Linked DNA regions of Homo sapiens: regions 2, 3 and 4 are each reported to be linked to region 1. Evidence: microRNA targets listed by miRTarBase, many of them from high-throughput screens and not tested one by one. Region 1 holds a microRNA gene; each other region holds the end of a gene's coding sequence.
The links. Region 1 holds the annotated microRNA hsa-miR-142-3p (UGUAGUGUUUCCUACUUUAUGGA, at 4,101-4,123, opposite strand). A microRNA usually pairs through its seed, bases 2 to 8, with sites in the 3' UTR of a target mRNA and lowers its output. Matches are read on the target gene's strand: a 7mer-m8 pairs with bases 2 to 8, a 7mer-A1 pairs with bases 2 to 7 and ends in A, and an 8mer does both.

Region 1 (7,116 bases):
GCTCACACCCACCCCAACCCTGCCTCAGCCCAGCACCAAGCCCCCTCCCCTCAATCTACTTCCTCTGCACTGATTCTCTGTGCACCTCCACACTCCCCCTGTATCCCCCAGCCCCTAAGGACAGACAGACTCATGGAAGAAGAGACACAGACAGACACACTGTCAGGAGGAGGCACAGAGAGGGACGGGGCAGCAGCAGGGCCAGATCTAGACAGACAGGCAAAGAGGGTCAGAAGGACAGACAAATGACGAAAGAAATGGAGCCCCTCAGATTTCTGCTCGATGAAGAGAGGACAGATAGCCACAGAGATGGACCCACAGACAGGCCAAGAGAGGACAGGTGGGCATTGGGGATGCATACCTCGCCTCACCTCCTGGCCAGGCTGGAGGACATGGTGAGAGACCCCCACCTTGCAGACCCCAGCCCTCCACAGATCCCTTACCTTCAGGAAAGCCTCCACTTCCTCATCCTCTGGCCTCTGGCAGGCGGGTCCAGAGCTGGATGCTTGCTGGCCCAGGCTGGGCAGACAAGCCTCTGCTCCTTCAGGGTCAGTTCCCCCCACGGGCCTGGAGCTCCCGTCTCCTTTGGGCTTGGAACTCTCCTCAGACCTCAGTTCTTGAAGCTGCAGAGCTGCCGGAGGAGTATCAGCGATGCTTGGGGCTGCACTGCTAGGTTCACCCCCTCGACCTGGAGTCCAGCTATGCCAGGTGGGCAGTGCCCATGGCTCCATGGCTCCAGGGTCCCCAGGCCGTGGGAGGGTTGTCAGTTGCTCCATGGTACTGCCAAGGGGCCCCAGAACCCGGGCCGGGGGACATCACCCAGCCAGGTGGGGGGACTGGCGAGGGTCATGCCAGGCCAGCCCCTCTCCCCTCTGAGCTCTTGCTTCACCGACGCTCCATCCAAGGTTGGCTGAGCTCTTCCCCACCCACAAAGGAGGCTGCAGAAGGCGCCAGGGCTGCTGGAGCTGGAGCCAGGGGTATGTGAGCTATGTTTGCTGGTAGCTGTGTGTGTGCGCGAGTATGTGGAGGAGCGAGGGTGTCCCTGTGGGGGTAGGGAGGATGTGCAGAGGCCACCGACAGCTGCGCCTGGGTGAGGGTGCGTGTGTGTGTCTCCAGGTCTGTCCGTGCAGGTCAATGCTGTCTCATGTGTTGGGAAGATGGGTGCCCCCACTTCTGTGTGTTGAGGGGGGTGGTGCTGTGTGTCACTGTCTGCCCATTTCAGAGTTGCCAGTTGTTTGTGTGTGTGTGTGTGGGTGTCTGTATTGCAGGGCTGTGGCAGTATGTGATGCTGTCCCTGGTTGTATCTGAGTGTGTCAGTGTCGTGCAGCTGTGTGCATCGGTGTCGTTGTGTGTCTGTCAGTGTCTGTGGGTCTGGCCGTCTGTCGCAACCCCTCAGCCCGGCCAGAGGCTTCAGGAGCTGCTGGGGGTGATCCCCAGTGGTCCGCTGTGGTCCTTTATCTCCGGCTCTGCTCTCTGCTGCTGCTCTTTCGCTTGCTGGGTGGCTGGGCTGGTCCTAAGGAGGCCTGGGTCGATGGGCTGCTTGCCTCATAGTCTCAGCCCCTGCTGGCCTCTGCTCTGGGGACTGCAGGGGTCCCTTACAGTCCAGGAGCCTCGAGATGGTGGGCTCCGAGGAGGGCTGAGCCTCAGAATTGGGTGGGGGGGTGAGCCGGGAAGAGCCAGCCCTCCCCTCCTCCTCCTCCTCCTCCCCTCCCACCCACCAATAGGAAGTCGGCTGCTGGTTTCCATGGTGATGGCGCTGGACTGGTGGGCTGAACCGGCTGACAGGGTCGGGGACAGAAGGAAGAGCAGGTTTCTCACGGCATGTCAGCCCAGGGCTCCCACATGTGGCCTCCCACCCTCATCTTCACACATTCTCACACCTTCCGGAGTACAGAGGCGAGTGGGGTGCAGATGGTCCTCCCTACATCGGGTGAGACTGATAGAGACAGAACGGGGGAGGGTATGACAGAGATCCAGCCACAGAGAAGGGCAGAACTAGAAAAGATGGGACTTGAGATGAAACAAAGAGAGAGACAGAAACCAAGAGAAAGAAACCGGGAAGACAAGCAAAGAGACAGGTAGAAATAGACGGAGAATTCCTTCTGCTTCCTCCTGGCAGATTGCACTTGGGGGGCAACCTGGCTGTCCCAGGCCACCAGGGAAGCCCACATGGCCTGTTGGGTTGGCTTTGTCCCGAATTGCCTGGAAGTTCATCTTCTGTCTAGCCTTAGATCTTGTTGCTAAATAATTTGGGGGACAAGGACGTGAGAATCCCCTCAGCCAGGAGTCAGTCTATATGCAGTGGCAGGGGTCTAGACAGAGTCCCCAGAGCCAGGGGTGTTGGGAGAAGCCCCGAGAGGCAGCCCCTCTCCACTCTGAACCCGGGACTCATTAGGCAAGCCAGTTTCAGCCAAGGTCGGGGGCCCTCGTGTGGCACCCCCACAGAATAGCAGCGGTGATACTGAACCCTAGAGCCCCTGACTGTGGGCTCCACCCAGGCAAGAGCCAATGGAACTGGAGGTAGGGGGTGCATGGGGAGGAGTGGACATCTTCACTTCCCTAAAGCAGTGTGTAGGTCAACACGCACGCCACTGCATGATGTGTTGCTGTTTAGGTCAGAGTATATATGCATGCCATTATGCGCATGCGTGTGTATAGTATGCATCTATAGAATAGACATTATCTATTTCTGTATATGTGAAGGGGCCATTGTGTGTATATATGTGTGTGCTATTATGTGTCTATGAGTCACATAATAAAACGTAACAAAAACACATTGGGTGTATCTGTATGTATGTTTCTGTGTCATTGCATCTATGTTTGTTTGCCACTGTGTCTATGTGTGTGCTGTTATGTGCATGGGAGGCTATCATTGCATGAGTTTATAAATTACAACACATCATGATATATATAGATATGGATGCTACTATATGGCACAATGTAGTAATTGATTACACAATATATGACATGCTCATATCGTCATGTAAATATGCATAATGACATGGTTTGATTTATATATATATATCACCATGTATCTATGTATTCTATATTTATCATGATATATGAACATGTCTCTATCTATGTATGTGTATGGAGCCACCGTGTTTATTATGCAAATGTCACTGTATGTGTGTGCTCTTCTATGTGTAAGACACGCCCTATGTTTCTATCATTGCATGTGTGTACTACTGAATATGTATGTGCCCTGGGTGTGTGTAATCCCTGTGTGTGTCATGCCAGTCATGTCACATGTGTCTGTGTGTGTGTTACTGGCACACTGAATGGGGCCTCTGTGTGTAAATGCATTTGCATCTCAGTGTGTGCTTTGTATATGAGTGTCTGTGCCCTTGTCTAAGATGCTGTGTATGTGCCACAGTGGATTTTGCCCAATTTTTATATGACCTAGGACCCCCTAGACTTTCTTAGATTAAAACTGGATGTAGGCAGCTTTCAGTTTGGGTATGTAGGGGGGCAGGATAGGGCCAGAGCTAGGGTAGAAGGTGAGAGGATGCCTTACATCCCTGCCCCTTTCTGCAGATGGCCCAGGCCCTTCTCTCCTCCGGCTGTGGCCTGGCCAGGCCCAGAGCCCTCTTCTGATCTCATAGGCAGGGCCAAACCCGTATCTTCTGGAGGAGCGACAGAGGTTCTCCCTCCCAGCCCTTCTGTGCGCCCATACTGTCCATGTGCCTGCCGCCCGCATTCAGCTCCCCACCCCAGCAACAGAGTCTCAGACAAAAGAGAAGCACAGTCCAGTCTTTATTAGCATTGGGTCCCTGGTCCCACCACCCATTCCCCTCCACGTACCATCCCTTCCCACCCCTTCCTCGTCCTTGACGCTGCGGCTGCATCAGGGTTCCACATGTCCAGCCCTCCCCGCCCCCAAAGACTGCAGGGCAGCAGAGGAGCTGCTGTGGCCTTTCCCCAGCTGTCCGGAACCAGGAAGGGCAGGAAAGCCATGGAGGCCTTTCAGGCATCTGGGCAGGGTAGGGAGGGGCCGTAAGGTGCTCACCTGTCACACGAGGTCCCCGAGCGCCGAGGAAGATGGTGGCGGGCAGCGGGCGGCAGCAGTGGCGTGATCTCCGAAGCCCACAGTACACTCATCCATAAAGTAGGAAACACTACACCCTCCAGTGCTGTTAGTAGTGCTTTCTACTTTATGGGTGACTGCACTGTCTGTCTGTCCGTCGGCGTGTACTCTTCAGGCTGCCCAGGCCTCCTGACTCCTGCTCCAAGAGCCCCCCAGCCCTCCTTGTGGCTTCCTAAGATCCCCCCAACCCTGCCAGGGCCCCCCGAGGGCCCGCCCTGGGCCTTGTGGGCGGTGACTCAGCATGGCGCCAGACTTGCCTCCTCTACCTCCCTCCCCCACTTCCTCTTCAGTTCCCTCTTCCCTTCCCCCTAAAGGCTCCACCCCATCCCCCCAGTTTCAGAGACACTCAGGTAGAGACTAGGGCCTCTGGAGGCCTCACCTTCAGTTCTGTGAACCCCTGGCTGGCCGCTTCCAGCCACGCTAGCCACCCTCCAGCGTCCAAATGAGGCAGCCACAGCTCCCCTGCCAAGGTCTTGGTCTCCAGTCCACCCCAACCGTGAGGTCCTGACTGCCCAGAGCCTCAGTCCCCACCCTTCAGCCTCCCCACCAGCCCAAGATCCTGACCCCCCAGGGCCTAAGTCCCCAGCCTCCCCAACAGCCCAGGGTCCTGACCCCCCAGGGCCTCAGGCCCTGGCCTCCCCACCAGCCCAAGGTCTTGAACACACCAGGGCCTCAATTCCCAGCCTCCCCACCAGCTCAAGGTCCTGACTCCCCCAGAGCCTCAGTCCCAGCCTCCATAGCAGCCCAAGGTCCTGACCCCCCAGGGCCTCAGTCCCCAGCCACTCCACCAGCCCCAAAGTCCTGACTCCCCAGAGCCTTGATTCTCGGCCTCCCCACCAGCCCAAAGTCCTGACTCCCTCACTGCCCTGCTGTTCCCCTGGCAGGAGCCCAAGGCTATCCCAACAAAAATGGTGGCCATGTTGGGCGGAGGAAGAGGCTGGCGCCCCTTGAGACACTGGTCCCACTTCTCAGCCTCTGCGTACCCTCTGCCATCCCCGCCTTACTCTCCAGCCCTCCTCCTTGGACACCTCTTTCCCCGCCTGGGGTCCCGGAGCCATTTTACCTTCCTTCACTAGAGAGGGTTTCAAGGCGCTTTGCCCTGAGCTTCCCGCATGGGGCTTGCACCCAAGCTCCTCGACACCCCCAACGCGCCTCCACCCAGACCAGCAGCCCAAGCCCCTAGAGGCCCCGAGCTGAGGAGCCCCAGTTGGGGCAGCAGTGAAGGTCCGGATCCTTACCTGAGGCTGCAGGGCGGAGGAGAGCTCGCCCTGTGCTCCAGGCTCCGAAGTGGGGTTCCCTTCAGGGAGGGCAGGGCTTATAACCCCGAGGCCACGTGGGCCAGATCTCAGGGCGCCCAACGGTCTCAGAGCGCGCCCCGCCCCCGCCCGCAGGGGATGAGCGCCCTCCCTCCCTCCCTCCCTGGGGAGGACAGACTGACAGGAAACAGAAGGGGGTGGGCCCGCGGGAGGGCTGGGGACCCTCTCTCATGCCCTGGGCAGGTGGCTTCCGGCCCCAGCTGCCCTTCCCCCCGTGGCACCAGCTCCAAGGGATGGCTCAAGAGCCTGGGACTGACTCAGGGCATTGAGGGTGACCCCAGAAGACCAGGGCTCCTCGACAGGGCCCTCGGTGAGTGCCCAAAACGGGGAGTCCAGAATTCCAGCACAAGAAAAGGACCTTCTCTCTGAGCCCCACCGCTGCTGACCTCAGCCCAGAAAACTCCCTTCCCTTCCCAACACTCAGGCCAGGCCCTGGCTCCTCTGCGTGTGCTCCCGAGGGCCATGGAGGTGCTGATGCATGAAGGGCGTCCATGGAGACTGTTGTCCTCAGCACCCCACAAAGCCACCCCTCCTGCAGCCTCAGCCTGCAGGGCACAGTGCGGGGGACACTCTCAGGCCCGGTGGACTGATGGCACTAGGCTAGGTGTTCACGCTCTCTTTGGGACCTGTGGGGACAAGAGGGCAGGGCAGAGCTGGGTGAGGATCAGGTCCTAAGGTGGGGCACAGGTGCTATGCGGAGAGAAGGGGGCTTGGAGGAGTGGCGGGAAAGAGGCTCGAGGGAAGGTTCTGGCGGCCACCGGATGTGGGCATGGGGCCCACCCACCTGCATGCCACCCCCGATTTCCCCATGGGGAAGGCAGGAAGCTGCCCAGCCCAGGGCCCCTGGCTGGGGGAGGGGAGTAGGGTGTGGGGGTGGGCAGGGGACAGCGTCGGCTGAGCCCAGCCCATACCATCTTCCCCCAGCGTTCTCCAAGCCTCTCCATGGGCTTGGCTCTGGAAGCAAGAGGAATGGGTTTGGGGAGGTAGGAGCGGTAGAGAGAAAACCACCCAGTGACTCCTTCCCAGAAGGCCATGGACCTCTTCTCTGGGTCCTCCGTTTAGGCCCACACAGACCTTAGGGAGCTGTCAGATTCAGGGCCTAGAAGAGGACTGGCATGGGGGCAGTGGGGAGGGAGATGGCCCCACATCCTTCCCTCCAGGAAGGGGGTCCTTCAACCTGGAAAGTTGCCCCATTCCCAGGTCCCTAAAATGGGACAGAGAAAGGGGGAATGGGGCCTTTCACCCCCTTGAGTCTAAAGAGAAAGTGGTGAGGAGGGTTGCCTTGCAGGGCCAGCTGGCCAGAAATGGGGCGATACTCCTTTAAGAGACCACCGCTGCCTCTGACCTGGGTGGAGGGGAAGTGGCTGCCCCAGGCGATAAGAGGATAAGAATATCAAAGTTGTGCAGTAACCTGGGTTCCTGGACCCCCATTCTTCAGGGCTCCTCCCCTGAGAGCATCTTACCTCCTACTCCTGCTTATGATGCCTCCATAGCCCTCACTTCAGAGGCGTCCTGTCCCCACAAAAGAGAGTCACAGAATGGGACCCAGGAGCCCGGCTTCTGGGCCCAGCTATGCCATAGACCCCTCAGCATGTGACCTGTGGCGAGTCAGAGCTGAGGTTCCAAGGGACACACATGGCTCCAACAGTCTCCAATCTAGCCCTTCTCCTGTCCTGAGCAGGGTGAGGTGTCCCTGCTGCCTGTTGTCTTGTG
Region 2 (7,116 bases), not on the chromosome of region 1:
CAGGTCCCAGGTGTTTTCAGAGGTTGCTGCTGGGACAGGCCATAGCATCTCGGCTGCTGCTCTTCTCTCTTAGGCCAAGTCCCTTAGGAGATGCCCTCGGCAGCCCATTGTGGGGCAGTAGAAGTCAAAGCCATGTAAAAGTGCCTGTGTCTTTTCTTTCTGGTCAGTTACCATTCCTGCTCTCACACCAGCTGGTCTTGTGCCTGATGGACATTTGTAATCAGTCTCACTGACCTGGCACTCATTATGCACTTCCTGAACCAACAGAACTGTATTACCGAGGAGCACACAGGGCGCTTCTTTAGTCAGCGGATGTGCTTGGTGCTGGGGAGAAACAAGCCAGGGGTGGCTCCTACTTCCTCCTCCCCAACCCCAGGCCTACCTGGAAACTGCAGTGTGGTGTCATGGTGCGCAGCCTGTGCTAGGATGGCCTCTCACCCTGCACCGATTTTGGGCCAGCCAGGCCACCTCATGGCCTCTTTCAGGTGTTGAAACTGAGCCCTATCAGTCTCCAGAAACCTCCCCCAGGGCTGCCCACTGGCTCCCATGACATGTCCTAGGAGCTCTGTCTGAATCAAGCCTTTTTTTTTTTTTTTTTTTTTTGAGATGGAGTTTTGCTTTTGTCACTCAGGCTGGAGCATGATCTCAGCTCACTACAACCTCTGCCTCCCAGGTTCAAGCAATTCTGCCTCAGCCTCCCAAGTAGCTGGGATTATAGGCACCCGCCACCATGCCCAGCTAATTTTTGTATTTTCAGTAGAGATGGGGGTTTCGCCATGTTGGCCAGGCTGGTCTTAAACTCCTGACCTCAGGTGATCCACCTGCCTTGGCCTCCCAGAATGCTGGCTGAATCAAGTCTTGATGTTGAGTATCCACCAGGGTGAGGGTGGTGGGGAAAGGAGAAGCCTATTGCCCTGGCCCCAGTGACCCCAAGCCAGCTCCACCTCTGGCACCCTGGGTGGGGCTTCTCCCCGCTTGATCAGCTTGGGCCTGCAGCTTTCCCAGCAGGCACTCTCACTCCTCAATGTCGGTGTCATTACTGGTGGTCAGTCATGGCCGTCAGGACAGGCAGCATTGAGGCCAGGATAAGGCAGCTACTCAGGGCTGCCATGAAGCCCAGGAGAGAAGAGGATGTGTGTGAATTGCTCAACACTGTGGGTTCTGGGGGTGACAGGCAGGCTGGCCCGAGGCCCCGGGAGGGAGAACTGGTCCCACAACCCTGTGAAACAAGGGAGGACCTTATTGCTGTGCTTGCCTGATTACCCTGGGAAGGAGGGACCAAGGGACCAGCCAGAGGCCAGTGGGAGAGGAACCATCAGGGTTTCCCCGGAAGTTATCCCAGTGGGTCCATCTGTGACCCTTGTACTCTGAGGTCACCTAAGCCTCAGAGGTGAGGCACCTGCCCCTGCTTGTGCCAATTGCTGCACAGAGAAGGAGAGGAGGTTCTTGGCCCAGGGATTCCAGACCCATGGCCAGCCTCGTGGCCATGCGATCTCAGCACTAGGCTGCCTGCCACCCTGGTCACAGGAGCCCCATCCCGGCCTCTGAGGAAGGGAACGCAAGACCAGACATACAAGGGAGAAGCTAAAGCAGAACTGAAGGGATGGAAGGCTGCTAAAAGTTATGTTTTCAAAGAACATTTAATCACAGAAACTTTCAAAATATTTTGTACATTGAATAGATCCGATCACCAAGCAGTGCATAGAGTAGGATCCTAACTTTGTAAAATATCCATATGTCATATATAAAGAAAGACAAATGTATATGTGCCAAGTAAGAAGACTGGAAGGAATTATGAACAGTGGTTATCTCTGTGATTGATTATGGGTGTTTGTATTCTGGTTTTTGTTATTTTCAAAATTTTCCCCAGCACACAGATAACATTTTCTTACGTGAGAAAAAATTTTTTTTAAAAAGCAGGGGGTGGAGAGCGGCAACTGTTTGCTCAAGACTTTTCAGTAAGGAAAGGAACCTGGGGTAGAAAGCTCCCCCTTCAGCTGCCCATGAGGGCACAGGTGGGCCCCACACTCACTACGGGGCCAGGGCAGGGCCGCACACCTGCCACTTCCTCAGCAGAGACCCTAGCGCGTGGGTCACTGCTGGCCCAGACTCCTTCCACGAGCAGGCGAGTGTGCAGGGCCACACCTCATCCAAGAGATGATCACGTTTAGGTTTTTGATGAAAAGCATAGCTCTCAGGTAAATACAGCAGCACCTCTAAGCATATTCTGGGAGGAGTGGGTTTTATGAGGAAGGCACACAAGGAACGCCCAAATTTGCAAGTCCCTTTAAAATGAGCCTGCTCAGAATTGCTGTTTATTCCACAGGTCTGCGCAGGCATGGCACTAAGTGTCCCATGGCACATTTGGCCCTCATGGAGGCCTCAAAAGGGCAGGACCAGCACCCTCTTCTACGGAGGAAGGAACGGGCACAGCAGGTACATGATGTGGTCAAATTAACAAGAGGCAGAGGCCGGGTAAGTGGCTCACGCCTGTAATCCTAGCACTTTGGGAGGCTGAGGCAGGAGGATTGCTTGAGCTCAGGAGTTCAAGACTGGCCTGGGCAAAGTTTAAGACCGGCCTGGGCAACATAGTGAGACCTGGTTTCTATAAAAAATTTAAAAATTAGCTGGGTATGGTGGCGTGTGCCTGTCATCCCAGCAACTCGGGCTGAAGTGGGAGGATTGCTTGAGCCCAGCAGGTTGAGGCTGCAGTGAGCCATGACACTGCCACTGCACTCCAGCCTGGGCGACAAAGCAAGACCATGTATGTCTTTAAAAAAAAAAAAAAAAAGGCAGCCAGGACCTGATGCCAGGTCGACTTGGCTCCAAAACCTGCCCTCTCCTTTTCACAGCCTCCTTTCCTGTGAAATAATAGGGAATTTCTCTAAAGCGCATCGCCCGGTCCCTATGTAAAGACAAAGAAACAGGACTTTGCACGCTCACCTGGCATTAGGGCCAGCACTGTGCTGCAGTTGTGAAGATGGCCACTGGGTTGGGGGTTGTTCTGCACCAAATGGCCCCAGACTCCCTGTCAGTGGCTACTTGTTGCAGCCAGTGGGCCTGAGCTGACCACCCTTATTTATGCTCCTGATGTGCAGCCTTGAATGCATCCTGGGCTGTGGGAGGCAACCAGGCCAGAAGATGACCTTGATAGCTGAGCACTGACCCTTCATCAGCTGTGTGTCCTTACGACCTCCTCCCTTTCTGAGGCCTTCTGTATGTGATGTCATTTGGTGGGTGGCTAAAGTTGCTAGAAGTCTGGCCACCAGGAAGGCCACGACTGTCACACTTTGTGCTTTGCTGCATAAAAAGGGAGTCTCATCATGATCCTCAGGCCTGCTGTGCACACCTGATGGGCATAGCAGCGTTTGCGTCTTGAAAACATTCATTTCACAAACTCCTAGCACACCCAAACCATGCCAGGTTACACACTGGGCACTGAAGAGACCACACATTTGTCAGTTTCCGAAACTCTACTGCCCAGTATTGGAAGAAGAGAGCTGTTAAATCAGGTCCTGCAATGGCAGATAGGCCCCAAGTCCTATGGCAGCAGGGGGCTCAGGCCATGTCTCAAGCTCTGGGAGAAGGTCATGGGGGCAGATGGGTTCTCTGGGTTGGAAGAGCCTTTGGAATTAAAGAGTCCTATGTCCTCATGTTGCAGATGAGAAACTGAAGCGTGAATAAGAAAGGGGACTTGTCCTGACACCAAGTCAGTGGCTGAGTTGGAACCAGAATACCTGTCTCCTAACACTCAGGCCATTGCCTCTTCCAATCTCTGCTAGCTGAGCTTGAAGCCTTAGACTAGTGGGGAACTCACCATCTTCCAGACAGCCTGGGCCCACCCTTTATGTACATGAGAGGGTCTCTTCCTCTGCGCTTGCACATGGAGGCCCTCCCTGGTCCAGGTGGAGGGGCTGCTGTCCCGCAGTGTGGCCCCAGCCTCCACCCCTGCTGCTGGACCAGCTCTCCCCAGGCCCCTCCCTGGGGGTGCAGCACGTGAACTCCAGAGAGGCGCATCCTTGGGCCCATGGGGAGGTGGAACCACTCTGCCAGGCTGTGCCTGTGGATGGGGCGGGCCCAGGATCTGCTTTTAATGACACGGTTTGGGCAGCTGGACTCTGTCTGTTCCAGCAGGTAAATTACAGGCTTAGCAAGTCAGAAATCAAATAAACACTCCAACTCCCAGTGGCTGTTCCAAGGAGAACAGCGGTTTCCGGGAACAGTGGAGGCCGAGACAAACCTCCCCACCCAACTCAGCCTAATTACTGCCTGTCACTCCCTGGGACAGGGACCTTTTCTTTGACTCACAGACCCAAGACACAGGACAGCGCTGGTGGGCACCCAGGGTGACGCCAATTTTGGTGGCCAGCTTGTTCATAACTCCTAGACACAAGCAAACACTGGCAGTCCCCACCCTTGCCCCATGCCTGGCCGGAGACTGCCAGTCACCCTGCTTTGGATGGAATGGATTGCTCTGCAGTGGGGCAGGAGGGGGAACTGAGGTCTTATTGACAATGCCTGGTGGTGGCTGTCTGCAGTTCTGTGCTGAGGCCTGGAGGCCCTGTCCTGGTTCAGTGGGAAAGGTACGTAGGTTGATTACTGACATGAGCCATGGGCAAGGGGAGCAGGCTGCGGGGGCATTTGCTCTGTGCCAGCCTACACTACATGTTGGAGCTGCTGGTCTTGCCTCTGTCTCAGTGCTGAGCCCCAAATGGGTCAGCATGGTAGAGATGGTGGAGGGAACTGGAAGCCCCCAGGATTCTTTGCTCCTGTGGGAGTCATACCTCTTTCCCAGGCAGGAGAAGGGGCAGGCCCAGGGCAAGGGAATACACATGACATAAAATATCCCCAGTGGCCAGGCACGGTGGCTCATGCCTGTCATCCCAACACTTTGGGAGGCCGGGCGGGTGGATCACCTGAGGTCAGGAGTTCAAGACCAGCCTGGCCGATATGGTGAAACCCCGTCTCTACTAAAAATACAAGAATGAGCTGGGCGTGGTGGTGGGCCCCTGTAATCCCAGCTACTCAGGAGGCTGAGGCACGAGAATTGCTTGAACCTGGGAGGCAGAGGTTGCAGTGAGCCAGGATTGCACCACTGCACTCCAGCCTGGGTGACAGAGTGAGACTCTATCTGGAAAAAAAAAAAAAAAATCCCCAGTGGCTTCGTGGGGATGTCCAGCTTATTCTTTTTCTAATATGCTAACTGCACCCTGGACCAAATGAGAAGAATCCCAGAACACACTGTGCTGAGAACATAAGCGTGTCCAATTTTGCCCAGAAATGGCCAGTGTTGTACCTGGGAAGAGGCAGAGCCCTTCTCCTCACACCTAAACCCTCTGGTGAATGGAGAAAAGCTCGGGTCAGCCAACCTCAGACCATCCGGGGCCAGCCACAGTCTGACAGGTCCTAAGATAGGACTTCTGTGCTGACTCCAGACAGTGCAGTCAGCACAGGCTCTGAGGCTGCTGTGTGCCTTAGGCCACCAAAGTGTCGGGCAGAGTGACAGCCACAAACCCCAGGGGAGGGGCACAGAGGTACCGAGAAAGGACCAGAAGCCTGACAGGAAGTAGGCACCGAGAGTGAGGGCCCCTGACACTCCTGCTTGAGCTGTGACAGCATTTAAGGGTTTTCTGCCTCTGCAGGGCCCGATCCAGATGAGAAGGGTGGCTGCAGTAGGGCTGGGCGGGCTGACTCAGTGGCAGCCGCAGGCCTTGACCACCATGTTGCGGTGCTTGCGCAGGATGACGTTGTTGCTGCTGTCATAGTAGAGCACAGAGGTGGCGCTCAGCTTGGTGGGTGCACAGCACGCCTTGGGGACTGCGTTTGGCTTCATCAGGTGCACCTGGCCAGGAAGGGAGCACAGGCAGGGGCATGAGGCCAGTGGCCTCCTCTGAGGACCCACCTAGCCCCGCCCCAGCTCCACCTGCTCCCTGCCCTGGCCATCTCCAAGCCACATGGGAGCAGCACAATAATAAGAATTATTAACAGGAATAAGAGCAGCCCTGAGAGCTCTGGGAGCGGGAGCTGTGGTGGCCCACAGTGCCCAGGGAGGGATACATGGCAGCCCCAGGGTGTGGGGCAGGTGGGCAGGGCACTAATGAGGGGCCTCGAGTCCCAGGCCAAGGGCTCAGACTTCCTCCTGGGGATAATGGGAAGGAGAACCTCATGGCCAGGTTTGTGCCCTTAGTGAGGTCCCCAAGGGGGAACCTGGAAGGACCACTGTCTTCTTATAGCCCTTCAGACCCCCCCAGAGGCTCTGCCTCCCCACACCCTGGCCTCCCTCCCCAGGCTCTGGGAGGCCAGGCCTCGCCCCCTCTCCTGTGCTGCTCCTTCTCCCAGAGGACTGCATCCGCCCTCAGCACTTCAAGGCCCTGCATGTGCCCGCACCTCTCCACTCCCCTGGCTCAGCTTGGACCTCTCTTCTGAACTCCAGACTTGCGGATCCTGCTCCCCTTCCCACTTCTGCACTTGGGGGTCTAATGAGGCCTCAGTGGAACATAGAATTCCTCCCGCCCTGACATCATAGCTCCCGCCTGGGAGGCCTCCTGGATGACTCCTTTCGCCTCCTCCCTTCCCTGAGAGCAGCCCCTGGCTCAACCTCCACCTCCGTGCTGCCTCGGACCACCTGCCCAGTCGAGCTGCCATCACCTGCCAGGTGACCACAGCAGCCCTCACTCATCCCCTGCTCCTCTGCCTTCCACTCCCGCGACCATCAGCCTCCCCAAGCCAGAAAGGTCCTTCTGGAGGGTGACGCAGACCAGGACACTGCTTTGCTGAAGACCTCTGACAGCCTCTGGGGTTGCTTGGAATAAAATCCACCCTCCTTCCCAGGGAACCCCAGGCCCTACGGGAGCTGGCCTGGCTCACCCCGGCATCACCTCCCTCCACTCTCCTCCCCTTCACTGCACCCAGCCCCTCTCCTCCCTGCTGGCCCTGAACTTAGGGCCAGCCTGCTCCTGTCTTAGGGCCTTGCACTTGCTCCTTCTGGAACATTCCTCCTCCAGCTGCTGACGTGCCCCTCCTTGTGTGGAGAGGCTGGGCCCAGTCTCACTCCACTGACGGCACGGCTGCTCTGCTCTTCCTCACAGGAGGTGTCAACTCCACGGTTGGTTTGCT
Region 3 (7,116 bases), not on the chromosome of region 1:
TGGGGTCTCTGCGGACGCTGCTCCTACAGGGCAATGCCCTGCGGGACCTGCCCCCATACACCTTTGCCAATCTGGCCAGCCTGCAGCGGCTCAACCTGCAGGGGAACCGAGTCAGCCCCTGTGGGGGGCCAGATGAGCCTGGCCCCTCCGGCTGTGTGGCCTTCTCCGGCATCACCTCCCTCCGCAGCCTGAGCCTGGTGGATAATGAGATAGAGCTGCTCAGGGCAGGGGCCTTCCTCCACACCCCACTGACTGAGCTGGACCTTTCTTCCAATCCTGGGCTGGAGGTGGCCACGGGGGCCTTGGGAGGCCTGGAGGCCTCCTTGGAGGTCCTGGCACTGCAGGGCAACGGGCTGATGGTCCTGCAGGTGGACCTGCCCTGCTTCATCTGCCTCAAGCGGCTCAATCTTGCCGAGAACCGCCTGAGCCACCTTCCCGCCTGGACACAGGCTGTGTCACTGGAGGTGCTGGACCTGCGAAACAACAGCTTCAGCCTCCTGCCAGGCAGTGCCATGGGTGGCCTGGAGACCAGCCTCCGGCGCCTCTACCTGCAGGGGAATCCACTCAGCTGCTGCGGCAATGGCTGGCTGGCAGCCCAGCTGCACCAGGGCCGTGTGGACGTGGACGCCACCCAGGACCTGATCTGCCGCTTCAGCTCCCAGGAGGAGGTGTCCCTGAGCCACGTGCGTCCCGAGGACTGTGAGAAGGGGGGACTGAAGAACATCAACCTCATCATCATCCTCACCTTCATACTGGTCTCTGCCATCCTCCTCACCACGCTGGCCGCCTGCTGCTGCGTCCGCCGGCAGAAGTTTAACCAACAGTATAAAGCCTAAAGAAGCCGGGAGACACTCTAGGTCAGTGGGGGAGCCTGAGGTACAGAGAAGAGTGAGGACTGACTCAAGGTCACACAGTGATCCGGGATCCCAGAACTCTGGTCTCCAAATTACAGCCCAGGACACCTTTCTCTGCCGCCTGCTGCATCAGTGGGTGACCCCCTTCCCGGGCTGCACTTTGGGTCCAGCTGTGGAAGCCAGAAGTTGGGCGGTTTCAGGGACAGCCGAGAATAATGTTGACCTGTCAGATCAACAAATCTTCACTGAGCATGTATTTTGTGCCACACCCTGCTCTGGGCACTGGGAATGCTGGGAAATGAGATACATTCCCGCCCTCAAGAATCTCCCAGTCTGGTAGGAGAGAGTGCTGCAGAGCCACGTGGCCGCCACGCAGTGTGCTTAGGGCCTGAGGTGTGAAAGCCCAGGGCTCCAGAGCTCGGCAGGCCCCGCTGGTTTGGTGCGGTGAGTCCTGCCCCGGCTGTGCCAGGGTGAGGGAGGGCCAAGCCCAGGAGGATTTGTCTGAGACATTTCCAAGCAGACTGTTTGTCACGTCTTCTGAGAATGACTTTCAGTCTCTCTGAAAATGAAAAGCTTAGGACCAGAAGAGAGAATTGGAGCTGTACGAGTGTGTCTCGGATCTGGTGTTGTTAGGTGGGCCACGGCGGCTCCAGCAGGGTCTGGTTAAGGGGTCCAGCCCAGCACTGGACCATTCCGTCTCCTGCTCTGGACTTGCCCTCTCCCTTCCTGGCACTCTCATGTTGCATACCCTGACCCCAGTGCTGCTCTAAGCACCGTCCCTGCCCAGCCCCACTTCTCCATCGCAGCCCCACCTTGGCTGCTGAGCCAGGAGCTAAAACCTTAGATATCTGGTTCTGTTTTGCACCCAGCTTGGCAGATGTGGATTTGAATCCAAGCCTTGTGTCTGCCCCTATGTGACAGCTCTATATTTTATCCCCGTTTTATAAAAGAGGAAACTGAAGTTCTGAAAATCTCCTTCCAGGGCCCCAGCTAACTAATGCCATAGGTGAGATTCAAACCTTCATCCTTCTGTCTCCAGGGCCTGATCTTTACCACTGCAGGGGCTGCAGGCCGTTAAGTGGACAGGAAGTGGCCCCACATAGCCCGAGCAGGGTCTGGAAGCATCCTGTGCTGTGCACACCTGCTCTCTCCTCTCTCCCAGGCAGGCAGCTGCAGGCGCTCTCCTCCTTCTCTGCCTGTTTCCCTCCTCCCTTCCTTTCCACCCTGGTGTGGGTTCTCCTGTTCTCTCTGTGCTCTTGCATTCTCTCATTCCCTTTTCCTCTATTGAGCAGAGCCTGGAGTTTGAGACTATGGAATCCAACCTCCCCATTGCACAGATGGGGAAACTGAGGCTTAGGAAGAGAATGAAACTTGTGGAGAGCTTATACAGAGCCTCTGGGGGAAAAAAGAGCCCTTATTTGTGGGGTGAGATTGGGGGTTGGACCAGAGTGATGTCCTCTCTCAGCTATCACATCACAAGATAATGCTGGCTCCAAACTTCCTTTCTGTGCCTCATCATGCAAGGATCTTTTTTCCCTCTTACAAAAACAGGTAAAAAGCCTCACCCAGATGACCCCCATCCCTCATACCATGGAGTCATGAGCTGTCTGGGAAGAATGGACGTGCTGGGACCAACTCAAGACCTTGTTTTGCTGTCTTCATCATCTTACCTGTGCTTGGCCCACAGTCTGGCTCATGATGTGGGCTCAGTAATGTGCGAGAAAGTGAAAATGCCACTCTCTCCACCCCATTTTACAGAGGAGAACACCAAGGCCCAGAGGAAGTTAAGGGAGAGTCAATGGGCAGAGCCAGGGCTAGGCCCTGGTGGTGTGTGGAGCACCCAGGCAGACCCAGTCCTGGTTGGGATCACACCCACGGGTGCTACTGCACGTAACACTCCTCCTTAGGCCTGGAGGCCAAGGTGTGGGTCCCCACGCCTGATCTTTGAAAACACTACACAGGGCTGCTGTCACTTCCCAGGGCCCAGGCCTCAGCCCAGGCCTCGGGACCAACTCTTTGTATAACCTACCTGAATGTATTAAAAACTAATTTTGGAGAAGCAGTGTGGCTGCCAGCTTCCTCTTTGCAATCCGCTTCATTGCGTCCACTAGAACCCTGCCGCTCAATCCCATTACGGTCGTTCAATCATCATGGCAAATCCCTGGGGACACTGAGACTCTGGGCCAGCACCACCCTGGACCTTGAAGCCGCAGCCACTAGCATGGCCCCTGCTACACCTCTTGCCCCACACTCAACAGGCGACTGTGCTCCCCACCCCAGGGCTGAGAGGCTGAGGGCTTCCGTTTGTTTCCTTCCTGCTACAGCTACAGGCCCCCTCCCCTTCTCTGTGCTCAGCCCTCTGTGCCCTATCTCAGAGGCTGCACTGCCCCTCCTCCTTGGGGTCCCCAGCCCCGTCCTCTCTCCCTTACCCCGTCATGCTCTCTTCTGCCTCCAGCCTCTCCCTGTTTACGTCTTCCTCTCAGACTTCAGCTGGACTCAAGTCTTGTCCGTCTTAAAAATAGTGAGAAGCCCCTCAGCCACTTTCCCCTTCGTCCTCCCACTCTTCACAGGCCAGGTTCTTGGTAAAGTCACTTCCCTTCCCGCCCCTCCCGTTCTCAACCCGCCTGGAGCTGCCTTCAGCCCCTCCCAGCTCCATGCTGCCCTTGCTAACAGCGTCAAGGGTATCCTTTGCCAAACTCAGCACGCTTTTCAGACCTCCTCTCCCTAGGCCCTGTGCAGCAGGCCCCCCACCCATACCCCTGCTGGGCATGCTCTCCCCACAGCTGTGATCCCACACAGGAAGCCATCTCCTCCCTCCCAGGCCACTCCTTTTCAGGCCACTCTTTGCTCATCTTCCTTGAGCCAGCTTTAAGTGGTGATGGCCAGGGCTCCATCCTAAGCCCTTTTCCCTTGGGAACACTATGGCCTCATTGCTGTAAACACCCCATTGCTCTGATGGCCCACATCTCTGTCTCCAGCCCCACCTCTCCTGAAAGTCCAATTCTGCTACCCAGAGGCCTTCCCAGGTAGAGGGCTAAAGGTCCCCAGGGACTGGAGAATTCAGTGATCAGCCAGGCTGCAGATCAAGGTTGAACTTGGAAGAAAACCACACCTGGTTCCTGGCTTGGAGTTGGAGGGTGAGTGTCGGGTGTGGGACAGAAGCAGCCTCACCTGGGTAGGGGAGCACTGAGAGGCGTGACAGGCCAGGGCAGAGCATGCAGAGCAGGGGGTGCTTATTCCTCTGGCCCTCACACCTTCCATTTCGCCCTGTCAGCAGCCTGGCACTGCGCCTTTGCCCTTCCCTTCCCTGACTGCCTCTCCCCCAAGCTCCTGCTCAGTGATGCTTCTCCTGCCCACCCCGAGTCAGCCTGGACCCCTCCCCTTGGCCCTGCAGCCCCTGGGCCCAGCGTTGGCAGCTCTGCCTCCTGGAGATTCTTCCGTTTCTCTGGTCCGTGCCCTCTCACCTCCCCATTCCTGCTCCTGGCTCCCAGTCTGCAAAGGGAAATTCTAAACACCTATTTCATGGGGTAGGGCTGGGGGAGAAAGGAGAGAGCCCCACCCCCTGGCACACGATAGGTGCTCCGTGAAGGCCTAAGGGGAAAGCAGGAGCTTGGGCTGAGCTCGCCTAGGGTCTGCGGGCCTCTGCTCCAGCAGGGAGCCCAGCAGGCCCCTGACCCCTTTTCCTGACAAACAGGGAGTTTGCTCACCTGGCCAAGACCCCCGGTGAGGCAGAAATTCCTGTTTTCAGCCAAACGTGGACACAGCAGCCAACTAGGTCATCAGAACATCCAGCTTCCCGAGCTCTTAGCTTGCAGGGAGAGGGGAGGCCCTGCCACTCCCAGGTCACAGTCAGCCTGAGGTGCAGGGCCCAACTCCTGGGGTTCCATGCGCTGGCGTGGCACTCCACCAGGAACGGGTCCCGGGACGCGCCAGCAACTCACCCTCTCAGACCCACAGGCTGGCCACATCCTCCAGGATCTGGGACCCACCGTCTGTGTTCTGTGCCCCTGTCCTTCAGGCAGTTCACTGAGCCCATGAGGCCCATCTCTCTCCCGCCACCTCTCACAACATGCTCAGAGATGGCCATTGTTGAGCACTTCCGGGCGGGCCCATGCTGAGCACTGGATGTGGATTGTCATGTTTAATTCTGACAGCCGTTGAAGAGATTTCTACTGTTACCATCCTCATTTTAGAGAACTGAGCTCCAGCGATGAGACTTGAACCCAGGCTGTCCCACTCTGGAGCCAGCAGTCTTAACCATTAGGCAGCACTGCCTCCTGCACCTCTCCCGCCTCCTCTGCCGGAACCAGCTCACCCCCCCACCCACCTGCACAATCTCCTTCACCACCCTCGCCTGTATCACCTCCATCACCTTCTCTGGGGAGACTGTCTGGATTTCTCTCCTCCAGCTGCCCACAGGTCTGGGCTGCCCTCAGCATTGGGTGTCTGCCTGACCCACCCACCAGGCCAGGAGGTCCTGGGGGGAGGTCCTACCTGGAGTCCTATCTGTCCCCAGGGCCTGTGAGCCAACACAGACTAAAGCCAGCTCAGAAAAGGTTTTCTGAGTGAATGGCCCCTGTCTTCCAGGACTCAGAAGCTTGTGGAGTTGAGACAAGCCCTCAGAGAGTGTGGTGAGGAGGCTTTTTGAACAGACCTAGGGGACACAGAGAGGACAGGGGAATGCAGACTGTGGGCTGCCCACGGCAGCAGGGGCCAGTGGGGAGGCAAAGAATCCTCTCTGACCACCCTCCATTCCCTGCAGCTTCCTCAGGCCTCTAGGACCCCGTCTTATCTTTGTCCTCCCCCCCTCCTTTGCTCCCCCTCGTCTCCCATTCTTCTCTTCTTGGTCATCTCCCCCCACCCCCACCCCTATCGCACTGGAAACAGTTGGGCTGTGGTGGCTGAGAATGGGGAGGGCGGGGTGGGGGAGAGGGAGGCCCGAGCTGTTTATAGGAACTGGAGCAGCTCCATCCATCAGCTCTGTTTGGAACTGGAGACCAAGCATAATAAATACCTTGGCTCCTCCCCAGCTGCGCTTTCCGTGAACTTGGCCGTCCGAACTCCAGCTCTCCCTGGCCTCCTGGTTCCCAGGATCCAGTCTCACTCCACCCCACCCTACCTCACCTCCCACCAAGCTGCCCTGGAAAGAGTCTGGCCTCTGGGACCAGAAACACGGGCCTGAGTCTAGGTTCTGCTGCTTCCTCACTGTGGGACCAAGGCCAAGACCGTCACTTAGCTGCACCTCTATTTCTGCATCTGTAAAATGGGGTCATAATCATCGCCCACACCCCCAAACTCAGCACTGCTCATTCGTTCGGCCAGAGTGGCTTGGGCATCTGCTCTGTGCTGGGCCCTAGGCCCTGCGGGATACAGGGAACAGTTGGACAGAGCCTCTGTCTATGGGGTGGAGAGAGGGGCCACACCACAACCCAAGCCAGGAAGTGGTCAGCGCCTTGAGGGAGGTCCAGATTTTGTGCTCGGGAAGTTTGTTTGCAGCAGGGAGCAGCCCTTCCAGCTGGAGAAGTGAGGCAAGACTTCGAGGACATCTGGGCTGGCTCTGCAAGGAAGGGTAGGATTTCAACACGTGGAGATGGGAAGAGGCTTTCCAGGCAGAACAAATGGCAGGACCCAAGGCCTGGCAGCAGGAAGAGCCAGGGCATGTCTGGGAGTAGAGGGGTCTGCCTGGCCCAGCCTCCATCGCATCACTTTCTCCTCTCTCCTCATTCAGCACCTTCTGCTCAGGACTTCCAGCCTTCTGAAATCTTCCCTCCTTCCCTGGAGAGCTTCCAACTCACCCAGCTAGGCCCTCCCAAGTTGTGGATGCATTCCCAGAATTCTGCCATCATGTCCCCACTCCCTCCTTCTCTGAAAAAGCCACCCTAGAAAGCGGAAGATTCAGATCGGGAAAAGGCATGGACCAATAGCATGTTTCTGGAGTGAATAAGGGAAAAAATGAATAAAGAAATGCAGAAAAGATTGAGTCAATGAAGGAGAGAGTGAGTGAGCAAATGACTGAAAGCAGCCAGCATTGCCGGGACCCTGCCGCATCTCATACTGGGTGCTGCACAGGCAGCGTTCCTCCTCTTGTGGCGCTTGGGAAATAGACATTAATCACACACAAACAAAAACGATGGCAAATTGTAATGAGGGCTATGAAAGGGAGTGAAGGGCAAGATCACTGAGGGGTGGGACTCAGAAGAATCCTTTCTGAGGACATGACCTGTCAGCTAAGACGGAAGGAGGACTTCAGTTGAGAGAACAA
Region 4 (7,116 bases), not on the chromosome of region 1:
TAGTCATGAAATATAATTTTAAATTTTTTTATGGAACAAGAGACCCACAAGGACAGTGCCCAGGGAACACAGAAGTTAGAATGTGGCCCAGCCCACAGCTCATGCTCTTAATCACTCTATTTCTTTCCTAGTGTGTATCTCACTCATTCATTTTTTTTCATCTCCTTGCTTCTACAACTATCTATTGGGTATCAACCAGGTGCCAAGTATTGTACTAGATGGAGTGAGAAATAGCGATACATCAGAGCTATGAATTTGGACCTTAAAGACCTTATTAGATTCTTAGACTCTTTCATTCTGACATTATTTTCCCACCTTGAAACACTGCTCTTTCTTAAACTTTCATGATATTGTTGAGACCTAACCTTTCTGAATCCAAAATGACCTATGGCCTGACAATGAGTCAGAATATCAGAAATAACAGATTTCCTGAAGTCTGGGACCTATGGTCATTGAAGCTACAGAACATATGGTTTCACATGAAATTTCAAAGTTAGCATCTCCCTAACTTGTTCTTTTCTGGGCCTTCTTTCTTGCAGGCCAATGACAAAGATAAACCCAAGGGGAGAAAGCGAAGCAATGCCAAGAGAAGACGCTACCCAACTAGAAGTAACTCTACCATCTTCCATTCATGAGACTGGCCCTGATACCATCCAAGAACCAGACTATGAGCCAAAGCCTACTCAGGAGCCTGCCCCAGAGCCTGCCCCAGGATCAGAGCCTATGGCAGTGCCTGACCTTGACATCGAGCTGGAGCTGGAGCCAGAAACGCAGTCGGAATTGGAGCCAGAGCCAGAGCCAGAGCCAGAGTCAGAGCCTGGGGTTGTAGTTGAGCCCTTAAGTGAAGATGAAAAGGGAGTGGTTAAGGCATAGGCTGGTGGCCTAAGTACAGCATTAATCATTAAGGAACCCATTACTGCCATTTGGAATTCAAATAACCTAACCAACCTCCACCTCCTCCTTCCATTTTGACCAACCTTCTTCTAACAAGGTGCTCATTCCTACTATGAATCCAGAATAAACACGCCAAGATAACAGCTAAATCAGCAAGGGTTCCTGTATTACCAATATAGAATACTAACAATTTTACTAACACGTAAGCATAACAAATGACAGGGCAAGTGATTTCTAACTTAGTTGAGTTTTGCAACAGTACCTGTGTTGTTATTTCAGAAAATATTATTTCTCTCTTTTTAACTACTCTTTTTTTTTATTTTAGACAGAGTCTTGCTCCGTCGCGCAGGCTGTGATCGTAGTGGTGCGATCTCGGCTCACTGCAACCTCCGCTCCCTGGGTTCAAGCGATTCTCCTGCCTGAGCCTCCTGAGTAGCTGGGACTACAGGCACGTGCCACCACGCCCGGCTAATTTTTTGTATTTTTAGTAGAGATGGGGTTTCACGTTGTTAGCCAGGATGGTCTCCATCTCCTGACCTCATGATCCGCCCACCTTGGCCTCCCAAAATGCTGGGATTACAGGCATGAGCCACTGCGCCCGGCCTCTTTTTAGCTACTCTTATGTTCCACATGCACATATGACAAGGTGGCATTAATTAGATTCAATATTATTTCTAGGAATAGTTCCTCATTCATTTTTATATTGACCACTAAGAAAATAATTCATCAGCATTATCTCATAGATTGGAAAATTTTCTCCAAATACAATAGAGGAGAATATGTAAAGGGTATACATTAATTGGTACGTAGCATTTAAAATCAGGTCTTATAATTAATGCTTCATTCCTCATATTAGATTTCCCAAGAAATCACCCTGGTATCCAATATCTGAGCATGGCAAATTTAAAAAATAACACAATTTCTTGCCTGTAACCCTAGCACTTTGGGAGGCCGAGGCAGGTGGATCACCTGAGGTCAGGAGTTCGAGACCAGCCTGGCCAACATGGCGAAACCCCTTCTCTACTAAAAATACAAAAATTAGCTGGGCGTGGTAGTGCATGCCTGTAATCCCAGCTACTTGGGAGGCTGAGGCAGGAGAATCGCTTGAACCCAGGAGGTGGAGGTTGCAGTGAGCCGAGATTGTGCCACTGCACTCCAACCTGGGTGACAGAGTGAGATTCCATCTGAAAAACAAAAACAAAAACAGAAAACAAACAAACAAAAAACAAAAAATCCCCACAACTTTGTCAAATAATGTACAGGCAAACACTTTCAAATATAATTTCCTTCAGTGAATACAAAATGTTGATATCATAGGTGATGTACAATTTAGTTTTGAATGAGTTATTATGTTATCACTGTGTCTGATGTTATCTACTTTGAAAGGCAGTCCAGAAAAGTGTTCTAAGTGAACTCTTAAGATCTATTTTAGATAATTTCAACTAATTAAATAACCTGTTTTACTGCCTGTACATTCCACATTAATAAAGCGATACCAATCTTATATGAATGCTAATATTACTAAAATGCACTGATATCACTTCTTCTTCCCCTGTTGAAAAGCTTTCTCATGATCATATTTCACCCACATCTCACCTTGAAGAAACTTACAGGTAGACTTACCTTTTCACTTGTGGAATTAATCATATTTAAATCTTACTTTAAGGCTCAATAAATAATACTCATAATGTCTCATTTTAGTGACTCCTAAGGCTAGTCCTTTTATAAACAACTTTTTCTGACATAGCATTTATGTATAATAAACCAGACATTTAAAGTGTACAATTTGATGAGTTTTGACAGAGCACATACCCATGAAACCACCACACCCATCTAGAGAGAAAACATTTCCATCAGCCCAAAATGTTTCTTCATGCCCCTTTGTGCGATCCCACCATTGCCCTGGACCTAGGAAATCACTCATTGTTTTCCATCACTAGAGGTTAACTTTGCCTTTTCTTGGCCCTCATACATATGGGATGATACAGTATGTACTTTTTGTGTCTCACTTCCTTCTAAGGTGAATCCTTTTTAAACAAAGTAGTGAGTTTCTCATTTATCACTTTCAGATTTTCATGTAAAATATTTTCTTAAACTGCAAACTCCTTTCTATATAAATCATAACCATACACAGATTGAGGTAGAGTCTCTGTAGGTTTTAAGGAGAGTTAAAATGGAAATTAACATTACACTTATCTAGAGCCATGGAGAGAAGAGATAGCAAGCGTTTATTTCTGCATTTTCTTCGATGCGTCCATTTTCAGAAAATGTCAGGGATTTCTGATGCATTTATAATTTCATTCATACTAAATATGATAGTATGGTATATGGTGTCTGATGGACACAAGAAGCAAAATAATGAAGGTCTTAAGAATGACCTAATATTTAGAGATTAAAAAGTAAACAACAGTGTAAACATCTCAATTACCAGAATGCCCAAGTAGCTGGAATTCATTTTTCCTTTCCATTTTTATTATAGAGGCAAATCGCAAGAGACTGACATGTAATAGTCAACAATTACACCCCAAAATTTTTGATGGATCAGTGCAGTCCAGGAAAGAAAGCACTACTGGTAGTCTTATAGAGCTCTGTCCTTATTAGCACTGTTCTGTTCAAAATACTGATGAATAGTTGGATCAGTGGCTTGTAACCTTTTTCTGAGGTCATGGAACACCTTGAGAATCTGCTGAAAACTCTAAACTCATCTTCACTGAAAGATGCTTATACACATAAAGTGTCACATATAGTTTCAGGTGAGTTACAGACTCCCTGAATCCAAGATGAAGAAACAGTTACTTAGATCAAAACACACAAAGTACACTTAATAAATTTGTGGATGACTTGCTCCTAGGGGGAATGGCCACTAGGCTATAAGAAAGAATCACGATTCAGAATGATCTTGATAGCTCAAAAGTGGAGTTGAAACCAACAAAATGAATTTGACAGGAATAAATAGAAAAATCTGGATTTAAAAATATGAAGTACATGTTGCCCAGGCAGAAACCCTACATGGGCAAGGTTAGGAAGCACATGAGATTAATCTGAATTCGTACCTTTGGATCTCTCCTTTCAGTGCCATTTCTGGCCTTGTGGCATCTTATTTTCCAAACACCCAGGATTCTCATGCTCCCATTAGCTCAGTGACCCTCTCAGTTCTTCTTCCCTCGGGCAAGACTCATTGCGCAGGACCTAAAGTAGCTGTTCTGTAACCTGTTCTTGTCCAGTGAACATGATCTTTCATCATTCAGTGATCTCATTAGGTTGATAAATGAGTTAGTCTTCTTTGGAGTATTTACCTTTTAAAGAGGACTCAAGCACAGATAATCCTTAATCTGAAGAGTCTAAACAATCCAGAGGAGATATATTTCTGAAAAAAGGAAACTTCTCAGCCCCTCTCAAATCAAACCAGGTGGTTTACCACCCATTCAATCTACTCTGGGCAACTCAGTTTTGATCAACTTTGATCAGAGCTAGAAGAGTGCTCTGAAATAAATAGTATTCAAACTTTTTCAACCCCAGCACACCTGAGTTATAACACATACAGTGGGCCACTCCTAACAATGATGAAGCTGGAGGTGGGAGATGATGTACAATTAAATTATTGGTGGGGGAGACAGGAAGGGGTAAATGTTCTTTTAAAAAGCTGGTTCACTCTTATATATTGCCACCCAGCCCCTAGAGGAGAATCCCTGAGTGCAGAGAAGTAAAATAATCTGCCTGAGATTACGCAAAGTCAAAACTAGATCCACATCATCTGGATTTCAGGGCAATGCTTTTCAACTGCACCAAACTACTAATTTCAGTGAAACAAACCCAAGCTTTAGTAATAAAAAGTTGTTTTACAATGTCTACCTGCTGGAAAACACATCAGTGGGCCTCATAAAAGGTTTAAACTAATCGATAAAGACTCAGTACTCCCACTTGTCTTTGAAACTTTGGTTTAAAAACAAAACAAATAATTCAGAGATGATAATGAGGGCTCCAGGAAACCATAAAAAGATATGCCAATAAAGAAAAACTGTTCCACTACTCACAACACTTCAGAAAGCAAATGTGTGGGGTTTCCACACCAAGTAATTCTCCAATTCTCTGCAGACACTGACTGGGTGTCCTGCAATTTAATTCAATTCTGACACTACCCAGGGTTGGGTCTGACAAGACTGCCCCCAACTTCAGACACATCACAAGTATTGGGTGCCCAGTGTACCCACACTTCTGTTAGACTTGGGTACAAATTGGGGGTTCCCGCAACCTCAAGTTTGATAATTTGCTGTAATGGCTCATAGAACTCAAGGAAACACTGTTGTCCACCAGTTTATTATAAAGGACATTATAAAGGATACAGATGAATGGCCAGCTGAAGAAGTACATAGGGTGAGGTCCAGAAGGGTCCTGAACATAGGAGCTTCTGTTCCCATGGAGTGGGGGTGTACCACTCTTCTGGCATGTGGGTGTGTCACCAACCTAGATGCTCACCAAACCCTGTAGTTTATGAATTTTTATGGAGGCTTCATCACATAGGTATGATCAACTATTAACTCAATCTCCAGCCCCTCTTCCCTCCCTGGAGGATGGGGGGTTGGGGCTGAAAGTTCTAATCCTCTAATCATGGCTTGGTCACTAATAGCCCCCGTTCTAAAGCTATCCAGGAGCCCACTAAGAGTTGCAACATTAGAACAAAAGGCACTCCTATCACCCAGGAAATCCCAAGGGGTTTAGAAGCTCTATGTAAGACACTCCTATCACTCAGGAACTGTCAAGGGTTTTAGGAGCTCTGTTTCAGGTACTGGGGGCTGAGACCAAATATGTATTTCTTATTACGTCACAGCCAAATTAAAGAAAAGCACCAGGATAGGTGTTTCAACTAACCGGTTATTTTCAAAATGCCAGAATACCTTCCATTTGGTCCACTGTCTTTGAAGAGGCAGAAAAGAAAATGAATTAGAATCCAGGAAAGCTAGATTTTGGTACTGGCTGTTTCTCTAGCTCTGGGTATATTCTCATCTGTAAAATGGAGATGATTTCTGCCTTCTTAAAGACTACAGTGAGAATAGATGTGAAAACTTATAAATTAAAAAACTGTAGTAGAACTATAGTTGTAGAAATGAGGTCTCCTGACAACTGATTCAGTATTCTTTTTTGTCTCAACCAGGGATTTTTAACCTTTTGGGGGAATCACAGATGTCCTTGAGAATTTGATGAAAGCAATAAATCCTCTTCCCAGAGAAATTCACATTACAAATTTCTGCTTTCAATTTTAGGCAGTCAATAGAACTGTGAAGCTGGAGCCATAAACCACAAAGTCAAGAATCTTTATACTCTATCAGACTTGCCAACAGATTGATTTGGAGGCCTTGTAGTGTAACAGAATATGGGAGCAGAAAGCAGCAGACGCAGCCATCTAAGGAATTCATTGTAGTTGGTACAGCTGAGAAATTGGGGAATCAAACACTAGTGTCATACAGTTAAATGTTAAGTCAAAGATTATGAAGAAAAACACAGATTTACTTTGAAGTTCCCAAAACCTCAGTGAAATTGTAATTCTCTATAACATATTTAAGAATGTAAATGTTTTCACTATTTTCATTGGCCTTTTTCTTCCATCGTATATTCTCAGTTAAGCTTTACCATTAAATTATTTATGTATTTTGAGATGAATTGTCGCTCTGTCACCCAGGCTAGACTGCAGTGGCACCAACTCGGCTCACTGCAACCTCCACCTCCTGGGTTCAAGCAATTTTCGTGCCTCAACCTCCTGAGTAGCTGGGATTACAGGCGCCCACCACCACACCCGGCTAATTTTTTTAGTAGAGATGGGGTTTCGCCATGTTGGGCAGGCTGGTCTTGAACTCCTGACCTCAGGTAATCTGCCCGCCTCGACCTCCCAATGTGCTGGGATAACAGGCATGAGCGACCATGCCCAGCCAAATTATGTTTTGAAACTGTAAAATCTGCTGACCTTGAATCAGCTTCATCTCTAACACCTTTCCTACAGACACAGGTAACAATCTGATCAATATCCGAGGCCACTAATATCTTTATTTTATACAAATCTGTGATCTAAATATTAACAAGTCATGCCATTTAAAATGCCAAAAGCCTACAAATTACCTGTGGCTTAGCTCCATCTGTATTGCTTATTGAAGAACTCGGATGAATTTCCTTTTACACCCACGAAACCTATCACCTCAGACAATTAACTCAATATTTATGAAGAGTAAA

Region 2: the mRNA of BMP8A is a reported target of hsa-miR-142-3p. The part of its 3' UTR that is shown has no 7-base or 8-base seed match.
Region 3: the mRNA of LRRC32 is a reported target of hsa-miR-142-3p. Seed matches in the 3' UTR shown: 8mer at 2,805-2,812.
Region 4: miRTarBase lists VSIG1 as a target of hsa-miR-142-3p. The part of its 3' UTR that is shown has no 7-base or 8-base seed match.

What each region holds. Positions count from the first base shown.
Region 1 is chr17:58,327,145-58,334,260 of GRCh38, forward strand. It overlaps MIR142 (microRNA 142), which reads right to left and starts at 4,174; the gene lies at 4,088-4,174. TSPOAP1 (TSPO associated protein 1) reads right to left here and starts at 1,651. Exons shown (of 32, transcript NM_004758.4): 1 at 444-1,651. The coding sequence starts at 776. TSPOAP1-AS1 (TSPOAP1, SUPT4H1 and RNF43 antisense RNA 1) reads left to right here. Exons shown (of 5, transcript NR_038410.1): 2 at 906-977. MIR142HG (MIR142 host genes) reads right to left here and starts at 5,376. Exons shown (of 1, transcript NR_186557.1): 1 at 3,744-5,376. RefSeq lists silencers at 34-93, 704-813, 5,384-5,693 and enhancers at 494-653, 1,524-1,593, 2,124-2,293, 2,394-2,473, 4,264-4,403 and 4 more.
Region 2 is chr1:39,524,375-39,531,490 of GRCh38, reverse strand. It overlaps BMP8A (bone morphogenetic protein 8a), which reads right to left. Exons shown (of 7, transcript NM_181809.4): 7 at 1,622-5,842. The coding sequence ends at 5,693. It also overlaps the pseudogene PPIEL. Among named protein-coding and RNA genes, the nearest start is that of BMP8A, 36 kb to the right of the region's middle.
Region 3 is chr11:76,653,324-76,660,439 of GRCh38, reverse strand. It overlaps LRRC32 (leucine rich repeat containing 32), which reads left to right. Exons shown (of 3, transcript NM_001128922.2): 3 at 1-2,916. The coding sequence ends at 836. LRRC32-AS1 (LRRC32 antisense RNA 1) reads right to left here and starts at 3,444. Exons shown (of 3, transcript NR_199061.1): 1 at 3,284-3,444; 2 at 746-832. RefSeq lists an enhancer at 6,148-6,671.
Region 4 is chrX:108,076,509-108,083,624 of GRCh38, forward strand. It overlaps VSIG1 (V-set and immunoglobulin domain containing 1), which reads left to right. Exons shown (of 7, transcript NM_182607.5): 7 at 540-2,676. The coding sequence ends at 873. Among named protein-coding and RNA genes, the nearest start is that of PSMD10, 11 kb to the right of the region's middle.